2 separate regions of the Homo sapiens genome follow, and region 1 is linked to region 2. The links come from fine-mapping of genetic effects on gene expression. A gene starts in region 2. The other region holds a variant in brackets. All regions are shown on one strand. Distances are from middle to middle.

Evidence for each region. PIP is the estimated chance that this variant, and not a neighbour inherited with it, causes the effect.
Region 1: its variant is fine-mapped to the expression of KIF3A in nucleus accumbens (GTEx, PIP 0.94).

What each region holds. Positions count from the first base shown.
Region 1 is chr5:132,705,538-132,711,049 of GRCh38, reverse strand. KIF3A (kinesin family member 3A) reads left to right here. Exons shown (of 19, transcript NM_001300791.2): 9 at 1-91; 10 at 2,072-2,143; 11 at 4,591-4,599. Among named protein-coding and RNA genes, the nearest start is that of KIF3A, 29 kb to the left of the region's middle. The variant T/G (reference allele first, on the strand shown) is at 3,391.
Region 2 is chr5:132,735,318-132,740,536 of GRCh38, reverse strand. It overlaps KIF3A (kinesin family member 3A), which reads left to right and starts at 2,991. Exons shown (of 19, transcript NM_001300791.2): 1 at 2,991-3,123. The coding sequence starts at 3,118. RefSeq lists a silencer at 3,127-3,436 and an enhancer at 3,587-3,686.

The DNA.
Region 1 (5,512 bases), 30 kb after region 2:
ATATCAGGCTCTGATATCAGTGGGTCAGAGGAAGATGATGATGAAGAGGGTGAGGTTGGAGAAGATGGAGAGAAAAGGAAAAAAAGAAGGGGTAAGTTCTGTTTAGTAATCTGATTTGTAGAAATTAGGTGGTTTCACAAGGTGGTAGAGTGCATGACTTTTATTTTGCCGTTATCTGTTTAATATATTAGATAACAATTAGAACAGAAGATGTATGCCATTTACCTGGTTAACTTTGCATTTTTTCTCCTGTATTGATCCGTTTATAGCTGACTTTGAATATATGTTCTGTTTTTTTAGAATTTAGAATTGTAAGACTCTATAATACTGGGTATGCCATTTTAAAATTTCCTGTGTGTTTTAATTTTATGTAGGGACTTACATCTGTGTTAGGAACCTAAGTTTTTTTGTTTGTTTGTTTGTTTGTTTGTTTTGAGACGGAGTCTCATTCTGTCGCCCAGGCTGGAGTGCAGTGGCGCGATCTCGGCTCACTGCAACCTCCACCTCCCAGGTTGAAGCGATTCTCCTGCCTCAGCCTCCCGAGTAGCTGGGACTATAGGCAAATGCCACCTCGCCCGGCTAATTTTTTGTATTTTTAGTAGAGACGGGGTTTCACCCTGTTAGCCAGGCTGGTCTTGATCTCCTGACCTCATGATCCATCTGCCTCGGCCTCCCAAAGTGCTGGGACTACAGGCGTGAGCCACCATGCCTGGCTGGAACCTAAGTATTTTAAGGAAATTAGGATAATGTGGAGTTTTTCCACAAACAAGATTAGTCTTTAAAAGTCATTGAATTTTTAAATAGTAAATTTGTATGAGGAATTCCATTTTTAAATTTAGTTCTTTTTCTTTATAAAATGTATTCTCATTCTCACTCTGTTGTGGGGGATTTGTTGCCACGTGTGAATTAAGACTGTTTATTATGATCAGAATATAGATAATATGCAAATGAAATGGACATATTATAATGGCCTACATTTCAAACCTTTTTACCATAAATATTTATTTCAGAACTCTCTTCCATTAATGTGGTCATTGTTTTCAAGCTGGTGCATATTTTGTTTGTCTTATTAAAATGATTGTGCTAAAAATAAACCCATCACTGCTTGATTAGGAGTCCCAAATTTAAAAACTATAAAGATTTTGTAACTTCAAAAGACAGAAAAATAATGATTTATGGCAAAAATTGGCAAAATGTCTGCTGGCTAAATCCAGCTCACCACCTGTTTTTGTAAATAAAATTTTATTAAAACAGCCATGCTCATTTATTTACATATGCTCTATGGCTGCTTTCACATGAAGCCGTATGGCCTGCAAAGTCTCAAACACTTATCTGTCCTTTTGCAGAAAACGTTTGCCTGATTTAGAGAAATTTTTTTTGTTCACACCTAGTTTTTCACAGAGTAGATTATTATTTTCAAAGCTAAAGCTGATAACAGATTTGTTAAAAATAAAATTTTAAATAGAAAAATGCCAGTAATATGTTAAAATATTTAACAATAATGTATCTTCCTTCCAGGCTTAGAAATTTAAAAATTTTCAGTGAGCCTTTTGAAAGTTTTGCTATCAAACCTTAAACATATTTGATAGTTTGATATTTTGGGGGAGGGAGAGACTGAAAGTGGAGATAGACTAACCTATTATGAAGGGTAATTTATCACTCCTATAATATTTATTGTGTATGACTTTGAGTTTTAAAACTCCATTCCTTTAACTTATCAACCTAAATAGTTTCAGTAGACTAAAATCTCACCAAATGACTTCTTTATTTTTTATTCTTGTCATTTCAACCCTTTGAATGATTAGGCTTTAGGTGACCAGTAGGATCTGCCCACAGTAGTTGCTTAAAGCAGTACACTTTCTAATTCCTCTGTATGGCTTTGTAAAGTAGAGAATATTGGATAAACTACCAAGATTGGTTTTTAGGAAAGTAAATTTTGGTTCTTTAATACAAAGCTTGATTGTCCTTTAAAATTTTTTTCTCTGAAAACTGAATTTTTCTCTGTGTGTGTGTTCATTTTCTTGTTTCCTCTTTCTTTGGTTCCTGTTGGGCTCATTTCTTTGTTTTCCAGGCAGTAGCAGCAGCAGTAGTTCAGACTCCACATGTTCTGTCATAGAGAAACCTCTGGATAAGTTCTTGCCTAGTGAGTGGTAGCTCTTACATTCTCTAACAGAGCTTTGGCTTTTCCATAACCCATGGGCTTCATTTGAGCAATGCTGCACCACTCCCTGTCATTACCTAAAGAATACATGTTGGATTCCTCAGTAGAACAAAGCATGTGATGATTCCTCCACCCCCTTTCATTGCTTCCAGTTAATCATAATTGTTAAAACATAGGCTTTAGCTTATGTTTGAGACAATGGAAGAGAGATTCATGCTTTTGCAATTGAGATAATGTAAAGAGAGCTAGTAAGCTGTATAAAAGAATAATTCTTATGCTTATTTTTTAGGTTTCATGACACATTTCTAATCCTGCTCAGAATAAGGGACACGTAACATCAAATCTTGTATTTCTAAAAGTACAAATTATATTTGAAGTACACCAGTGCCCATTATAACATGTCGTACAATTACAAATTTTTTACACTTTGGTGTCCTATTCTTAGTGGTAGCTTAAGATTAAAGGCTCCCAAATAAAGAAAAACATAAAGCTTGAAGCAAGTAAAGATGAATTGAATAGTGTTTTATTTCAAATGGACATTTATCCATATTTCTGTATTACCTGATAGATTTTAAGAAAAGTTCTTTCTTTTTTTTTTTTTTTTTTTGAGACGGAGTCTTGCTCTTTTGCCTAGGCCGGAGTGCAGTGGCGCAGTCTTGGCTCACTGCAAGCTCCGCCTCCCGGGTTCACGCCATTCTCCTGCCTCAGCTTCCCGAGTAGCTAGGACTACAGGTGCCCGCCACCACTCCTGGCTAATTTTTGTATTTTTAGTAGAGACGGGGTTTCACCGTGTTAGCCAGGATGGTCCCGATCTCCTGACCTCATGATCTGCCCGCCTCGGCCTCCCAAAGTGCTGGGATTATAGGCGTGAGCCACTGCGCCCGGCTGATTTTAAGAGATTTTCTAAGGTATGATTAGAGAATGCAGAATCACGTGGATTTTATGCAGGATCCATCTAGACTTATTTCAAACTTAAAGGCTTTTGTTAAAACAATTTAATTAAGTTGAAAAGTGTTATTTAATTTAATTTATTTATATTTTATTTTCAGAAGAAAGGGGAGTAGTGTTGCTTTCTTGTACCAGCCTGCAGCTTACTGTCTTTTAAAGCATTATCTATATACTTACCCTTTCAAAACTAATGACAAAAATAATTGCTTATTGTTCTTATGCTTTTAGCTTTCTAGAAGAATAATTCCAAGAATATTAGAAATCTCCTTCTCTATTGACAA[T/G]TTGTAGGCAAGTTACCAAAACAATTCATTTCAAAGGATAATTTGTAAAATACTTGGAATTGCATTAGAAACCACATAGAGGTATTACTTTGTATAATAAACTGTGAAATATGCGAAAATATTTGAGTGGGAGGCGTTGCAATTTAGTTTTCTGTTTTAAAACTTAATTCTTAAAGAGTAGTTATATGAAAGTATGTTATGAAATGAGTTGTACTTTGTTCAATTCAAGAAGTTTTAATTCCTATTTGCGTACCTAGCACATAATTTTTTTCTTGTAATGTGGGCGTGTTGGTGAAGTGGAGAGATGGTTGTCCTAGCATGTGGTTGCTGTGTGTACCTTCCCTTTTAAATATCTCAATGGCCTTTTTAAAAGGTGTTTCTTGCTTGAGTCCTTAATTGGCAGTGACTCCTGTAGAATCATTGTTTATAATTACCCTTAAAAATCTACTAATAGAAGGAATGTAAGTTTGTTACTGTACAGGTATACTTCATTTTATGTAATAATTTTATTTTCTGGAAAAAAAAAAAAGCCCTTAATCCGGTTGGGAAATCGGATGTATTGGGAGAACTTGTGTCTTTAAAAATTCTTCATTAGACCTTTCTGTTAATCAAATAATCAGTGGAAATTACTGTAATCTAATTTATCTGTTGGATTGGTTCAGGTTTTTGTGTTAGATTTTCTTAAAGTGAAGCATGCCTATAATAGATCCATATACTAAAAGAAATATTGAATTGGGACATTTTTGATATGGACAGTGTGAATTTTGTCACTTTAAATGTACTAGTTGTTAAAATTGCCTTAATTTTCTGTTTTGCCCTTTTAGATTACTTCCCAGATCTTAGCAGGTTCCTAATTCCATGTCTTCTGTTAGCATAACCACATGGTGTTGAACTGTGACCTTTGCAGGACTTGGGGAATCAGTGTGAGATCTTGAGATTGACTTGAGTTATAATCTAAGACTAAGTTAACTTTAATATTCTTGCTTAAATGACATCTCTCGTTGTGTTGAATATGCTTTCTTTTTACATGGGCTCTATTTCAGTTTTGATAACGGTTTGATTTTTATTTCTACACTTAAATGAATGCTATTATATATTTTTCTTTGTTTCACAAGAGAAATAATGTTTTCCTTTTTTTCCTCCTCATCTCTGTGCGTATTGCTTCCTGTCTGCGATTTGCTTACTACTTCTTATTGCAAGATCAAGCAGGTTGGTGTGATTGATTTGCACTCCACATGGTACAATTATTTATCCTATAAAGAACTATGTTATTTAAATACATTAAATTTTTAAAATTTAGTAGTTTTTTTACCAGGTAAGTATCTATCTTTTGTATTTTTAACAATCTTTCAACTTTAGCTTTTAAAAAGAACTTCATTTTTTTCCCTAAATTCTTAAAGACTCATTAAGCCAAAGTTTGGAAATACAAGTGTAAATTATTTCACATTCAAACATTTTTCTCCTTTTTTCTTAAAGCCAAGAATCAAATACCTGGTTATGCCGTGGTTGCTTATGTAATAAAAATGAAATTAATTCAATTAGGACTGCCCTGAAGTTCTTCCCCTTTGACTTACCCTGGCCGGTTAACGTTCACAATATTGGTTAGAGCACATGGCAAAGGGCAATAAAAAAATGTTGCTACTTATGTCTGGTTTAGTTAAATACTGTTTATGGCATTAACTTTTAAAAATATTTATTTACCTGAAATTTTGTGCTGAATTTTATCATGCATTGTTAGAAATAGATTTCTTTTTTGTTTGATTGGTTTAAGAAGGTTTTTTTAAAAAAAAGTCCTTTGAAAAATACATATAAAAGTGACTTTTACTGATGTCACATTTTTAAATACCTGGTTAGGAGAGTTAGCACATATTCACATTTAGCTTAAAATATTATTTGTGGAGAAATATAATGATTTGTCAGAGTGATTCTGGCTAAAGTAATATGTTACTTAAATATTAGGCTTTTGAAACTAACCCTGGCTATATATCTTTGATTGTCTTCATGAAAGTGTTACAAGACCACAATAAGATTTTTGCTGCTAAAGTATCAGTTTGGAAACATACCTGAATGGTTTTAAATTACTAATGTAATGCATTAATGCATGAACAGTTATGTGTCTTTG
Region 2 (5,219 bases):
ACAAAACAAACAAACAAACAAACAAAAAAACAAACCCCGGGCCGGGCACGGTGGCTCACGCCTGTAATCTCAGCACTTTGGGAGGCGGAGGCGGGCGGATCACGAGGTCAGGAGATTGAGACCATCCTGGCTAACACAATGAAACCCCGTCTTTACTAAAAATACAAAAAAAAAAAAAAAAAAAAAATTAGCCAGGCGTGGTGGCGGGCTCCTGTAGTCCCAGCTACTCAGGAGGCTGAGGCAGGAGAATGGGTGAACCCAGGAGGCGGAGCTTGCAGTGAGCCGAGATGGCACCACTGCACTCCAGCCTGGGCGACAGAGTGAGACTCCGTCTCAAAAACAAAAACAAAAAACCCTGAAAAATAGGTTATAGACCTGAATGTGACAGCTAAAACTATAAAACTCTAGGTAAATCTTCATAATCTTGGGTTAGGAAATGGTTTCTTACTTATCAAAAGCATAGTGACAAAAGAAAAAATATGTAAATTGGACTTGATCAAAATTTAAAACTTTTGTGCTTCAAAGGACGATATCCATAAAGTAAAAAGAAAACCCACAGAATGGGGGAAAATATTTGCATGTCATATACTTGAAAAGGGCTTTGCATTCAGATTATGTAGAGAACTCTTACAGCTTAATAATGAAAAGGCAAATAAAATGGGTAAAGGGTTTGAATGGACATTTCTCCAAAGAAGTTATACAAATTGCAACAGCACATGAAAAAAAATGCTCAACATCATTATGATCAGGGAAATGAAAATAAATAAATACTCCAGCAAGATACTACTTTACACAAAAGTGAGTGTTGGCAAGGATGTGGAGAAATTGTAAACTTTACATGTTACTGGTGGGAATTTAAAATGGTGCACTACTGTGGAAAACAACTTGGCAGTTCCTCAAAATGTTAAACATTAGCATTACCAAATGATCCAGCAATTCTACTTCTACATATGTAACCAAGAGGAATGAAAACATAGGCTCATACAAAAACTTGTAGCAGCATTATTCACGATAGGCAAAAAGTAGAAACAACCCAAATATCCATCAATGACAAATAGGTAAAAAAACATGTTATAGCCATGCAATGGAATATTATTCAGCCATAAAAAGTAACAAATTGCTGATATATGCTATAATAGGGATACAGCTTGAAAACTTTGTAAGTGAAAGAAGTTACTCACAAAAGGCTGCATATTGTGTAATTTCATTTATATGAAATGTCCAGAATAGGCAAATCCACAGAGATAGAAAGTAGATTGGTGGGTTGTCTAGGTCTGGGATGTTGGGAGTGGGGTGGGAGGAGGGTTGCAGAGAGCAAGGGGGAGTGGCTTATGAGTACAGAATGTCTTTTTGGAATGATAAAAATGTTCTAGGTTATGGTTGCACAACTCCATATATAGTAAGAACTATTGACTTGTACAATTTAAATCGGTGATTGTATGGTATGGTGTGTAAATTATATCTCAGTAAAGCTTGTATGTGTGTATATATAAAATATTGAATGGTGATAGGTACTATGGAGAAATATAAAGTGGGGAGGGAAAAAAAGAAGAGTTTGGGCTGAAGGTTGAAATTTTAAATAAGGAAATCATGTTAGGGTTCACTGGGGTTATGTGAACAAAGACTTTCTGGAGGAGGTGAGTGGTCAGGTGGTTTTTTAGGGAAAGAGCTGTCTAGGCTGCCTGGGTTTGGACCTGGGCTCTGCCATTGTTTATATGTATGACCTTGGAAAAGTTATTTAATGGTCCTGTGCCTCAATTACTTTATCTGTAAAATAATAATAAATAGTATCTATTTCAAAAGGTTATTGTGTGGATTAAATGAATTAAAAAACGAAAGCATGTAGAACAGTACACTGGCACTATGTAAAATGCTTTATCTTTATTTCTATCAGTTCCTACTGCAAGCTCACAGCCCTTGCATGCTAAGATGGAAGCACGACGGGAATGTTGGATGAAGCAAGGAGGCCAGGTGGGGCTGGTGCAGAAGAAGCAAGAGGGAGGATTGTAGGGCTTGTGGCTTTAGCTTTGTAAGATGGGAAATCAATGGAGGGTTTTGAGCAGAGAAAAGAGAAGATCTGATTCATGTTTTAGCACCAGCACTCTGGCTCCTGTCCAGCACACTGAAAAGGGACAAGGACACACAATCAAGGAAACCAGTTCTGAGCGATTGTAGTAATGCACGTGAGAGACGATGGTGGTGGTAGAAGTGGCCAAATTCTGGTTCCACTACAAAGATAGATACAACAGGCTGTATTTAAAGATAGAATATTGTGTATGAAAGAGACTGCAATTTTGACCTGAGCAGTTGTCGGAATTAAGCTCCCACATATTGAGATGAAGAAAGTCTGAGAGGGATGAGAGAGAGCCCTTTTAAATTTTTTGATGGGGGTGGAGTGGGTAGTGGGGCGATTGATGGGGGATCAAGATTTCAATTCTGGACATGATTAACTTGAAATGCCCATTACACATTCAAGTGGACTAGAAAGAGGATGGACGGATCACTGGTTCTTTGACCAACACGTATAAAAATCCCACTCTGTGCCAGGCTCTGTGTGGGCTCTGGAGATAGATGTGAGAATACTAACAATCTCCTTAAGAGAGCTCACTTTCTAATGGTAAGACAGGTCATGAGGAAGTTAGCAATCAAGCGAGGTCAGGTAGGTAAGGTCTTCAATTCTTCGGATGAGACAAAATGTACAATTGCTATTACTGATTTTAATATTCCGGGTATTGCAAGGGCCAGAAGACGGGCCTAAGAGCAGCTCCTCCTCCCAACCCCGGGCTGCCAGGTTACCTCCGCCTCAGTGCGTGCCACATTTCTAGCGCAGCAGAATGGCAGCATTGCGCACGCGCGGCCTCAGTCTGGCGTCCTAGGAGATGGACTCGGAAAGCCTCCGCGCAGGCGTAATTCAAGGGCCGAGAGAGCCTGAGACTGGGCTTGGGGCGGGGCGAGCTCGGAATGCGGCTGCGCACTGGGCGCTCTCGCCCGAGAAGCCGCAGTCTCGAGAGCGTCAACGAGGTGTTTCGGTAGTCTCTGGCCATCCTTTCTGCGCACCCGGTGTCGCTGGGCTGCACCCCGGGCGGGGACGTCCGCCGGGCACGGGAGGGGGCCAAGATGCCGGTGAGGAGAGTCGCTTCGCTTCTGGGGTTTCTTCTCATCCTAGCGGCCTGGCCCGGGGGCGCGGCCGTTGCCATGGAGGCGCGGAGCCGGCAGGCGGCCTGGGTGGGGCGGGGCAGGCTCGGTCGTGCGGTGGAGGTGGTTGGAGAGCCTGGCTGGTCAGCCCCGGGGCCGCGGGGGTCCGGCCGGCCTCGACAGGGACCTGGGGTCAGGCCCTGCCGCCCTCGTCGCTGCTGCATCCCGTGGGGCCTGCGCCGCTTATCAAAAAGGCGCTGTGCTGGAGGATGCGCTCTGGCTCGCAGCCCTTCCTGCTGAGCGGGGCGTCTGGGGGTGGCCACGGTGGGGCTCTTTGGATGCTGCACACCTGGTGAGGCCTTTGCGCCTCGGAGCAAGCGCAGGGAGGCAGCGGAGCGAAGGCTGCCTGCCCCTATTCCAGGCCCCATACTCCGAGTCTCCTAGCCTTGAGCTGTCATTGCTCTTGTGGCGCTTTAGCTTATGATGCAGAATGAAACCCGTAGGTGTCTTTGTGTGTGTGGCGGTGTTATGTTTATCTTCCAGGATTTCACAGATTGTTATCGTGAACTTAATAATGGGGCCTTCTAAGACCCCTTATTAGGGGTCATGGAGGAAAATTGAGCCATGGCCGCTTATTTAGTGGTTGTGAGGCCTCGGATAATTATTTAATCTGTCTGGGTCCTTAGTTCCCATGTAAACTTTACCTCATGGGGTTGTTATCCGCGTGAAATAATACACAGGAGACTAGAAGGACAGTGCTTGACATTTAAGATTAAATGCTCTATATTTGTTCTGTTCACTGCTTTCAAGTTTTAATTCAGTAAATATTGGGCACCAACCACATGCTAGGCCCTGAAGATACAACATTGAGCAACACCAGTCAGGTTCTTGAACTTGGAAAGAGAGAGGCTTGCCTTCTTGGGCAGAGGTGAAAATCATACATATTTACAGACGTAAGACACAAAACCTTAATAATGAAGTGGGTGGGTATCCTACAATAGAGAGAAGTAGATTCTGGTGAATTGGAATGTATTGCCATGTAAGAATGATGGTCTGCAGATGATAACAGGTCATTTTTTTTCCTCCCAAGAAGAGACTTTAGAAATTATTTTTGTGAAATTTCTCAATTTTAGCAACTAATTCAAAAGCTCTTTAAATACTATGAACCAAACAAAAGAAATTTGTGGGCTGAATTCAGCCTCTTGACTACCTGTTTGCAACCTCTGGTGTAGACAGAAAGACATTAATCAAATAAGGAACAAGCAAAAGTAAAATTTGTGTCCAGGAAGGGGAGAGCAGGGTGCTCTCTGAGCCTATAAGAGTATTTGACCTAGTCAGGAAGTCTTCCCAGGTGAAGTGGCTGTTGAGTTCTGAAGGATAAGTAGATGTTAACTAAGTGAAGAGGGGATTGAAGATGGTTCTAGGTAGAAGGAACAGCACATGGAAAGGCCAGTGGTGAGGAGCATGGTGACAAGAAAAGGCCAAGCAGCTCAGTGTGGCTGTGGCATGGATGAGCCAGGCAGAATATCTTGTGAAATAAGCCCAGTGAAGCAGACGTGGGTGGAAGCCAGACCTTACAGACCACCTTAAGGATTCTGGTTTTTGTTCTGAGATCTATGGGAAACCACTGAAGAATTTTTAAGTAGGAGAGTGACATGATTAGATGTGTGTTGACACTGACTGCTATTTGGAGAATAGGCAGTAGGGCAATCTGATTAGATTCAGGAGTATAGTTAGGAGGCAGTAATCCAGGGCCAAGATGATGGTGATTTAGACTAGGGTGATGAATAGATGAGAGGAATAGGATGAGAGATAGATAGAAGTGTATTGTACTGATATAATCTGTTACTTGTCAGTGACAATGTCAGAGTCAATGACAATGACTCATATTTGTTTCTCTTCAATGCTTAGAAGAGAATCTGAAACAGTAGGAATTTAACAAGTATCTGTTCAACTAAACTGTCCTTTTCACTTCAATAATAGGATTGTGTTTCATTATATTTTCTTAATCATAAAATTTCAGAAATGACGGGGTGCGGTGGCACATGCCTGTAATCTCAGCACTTTGGGAGGCCGAGGTGGGT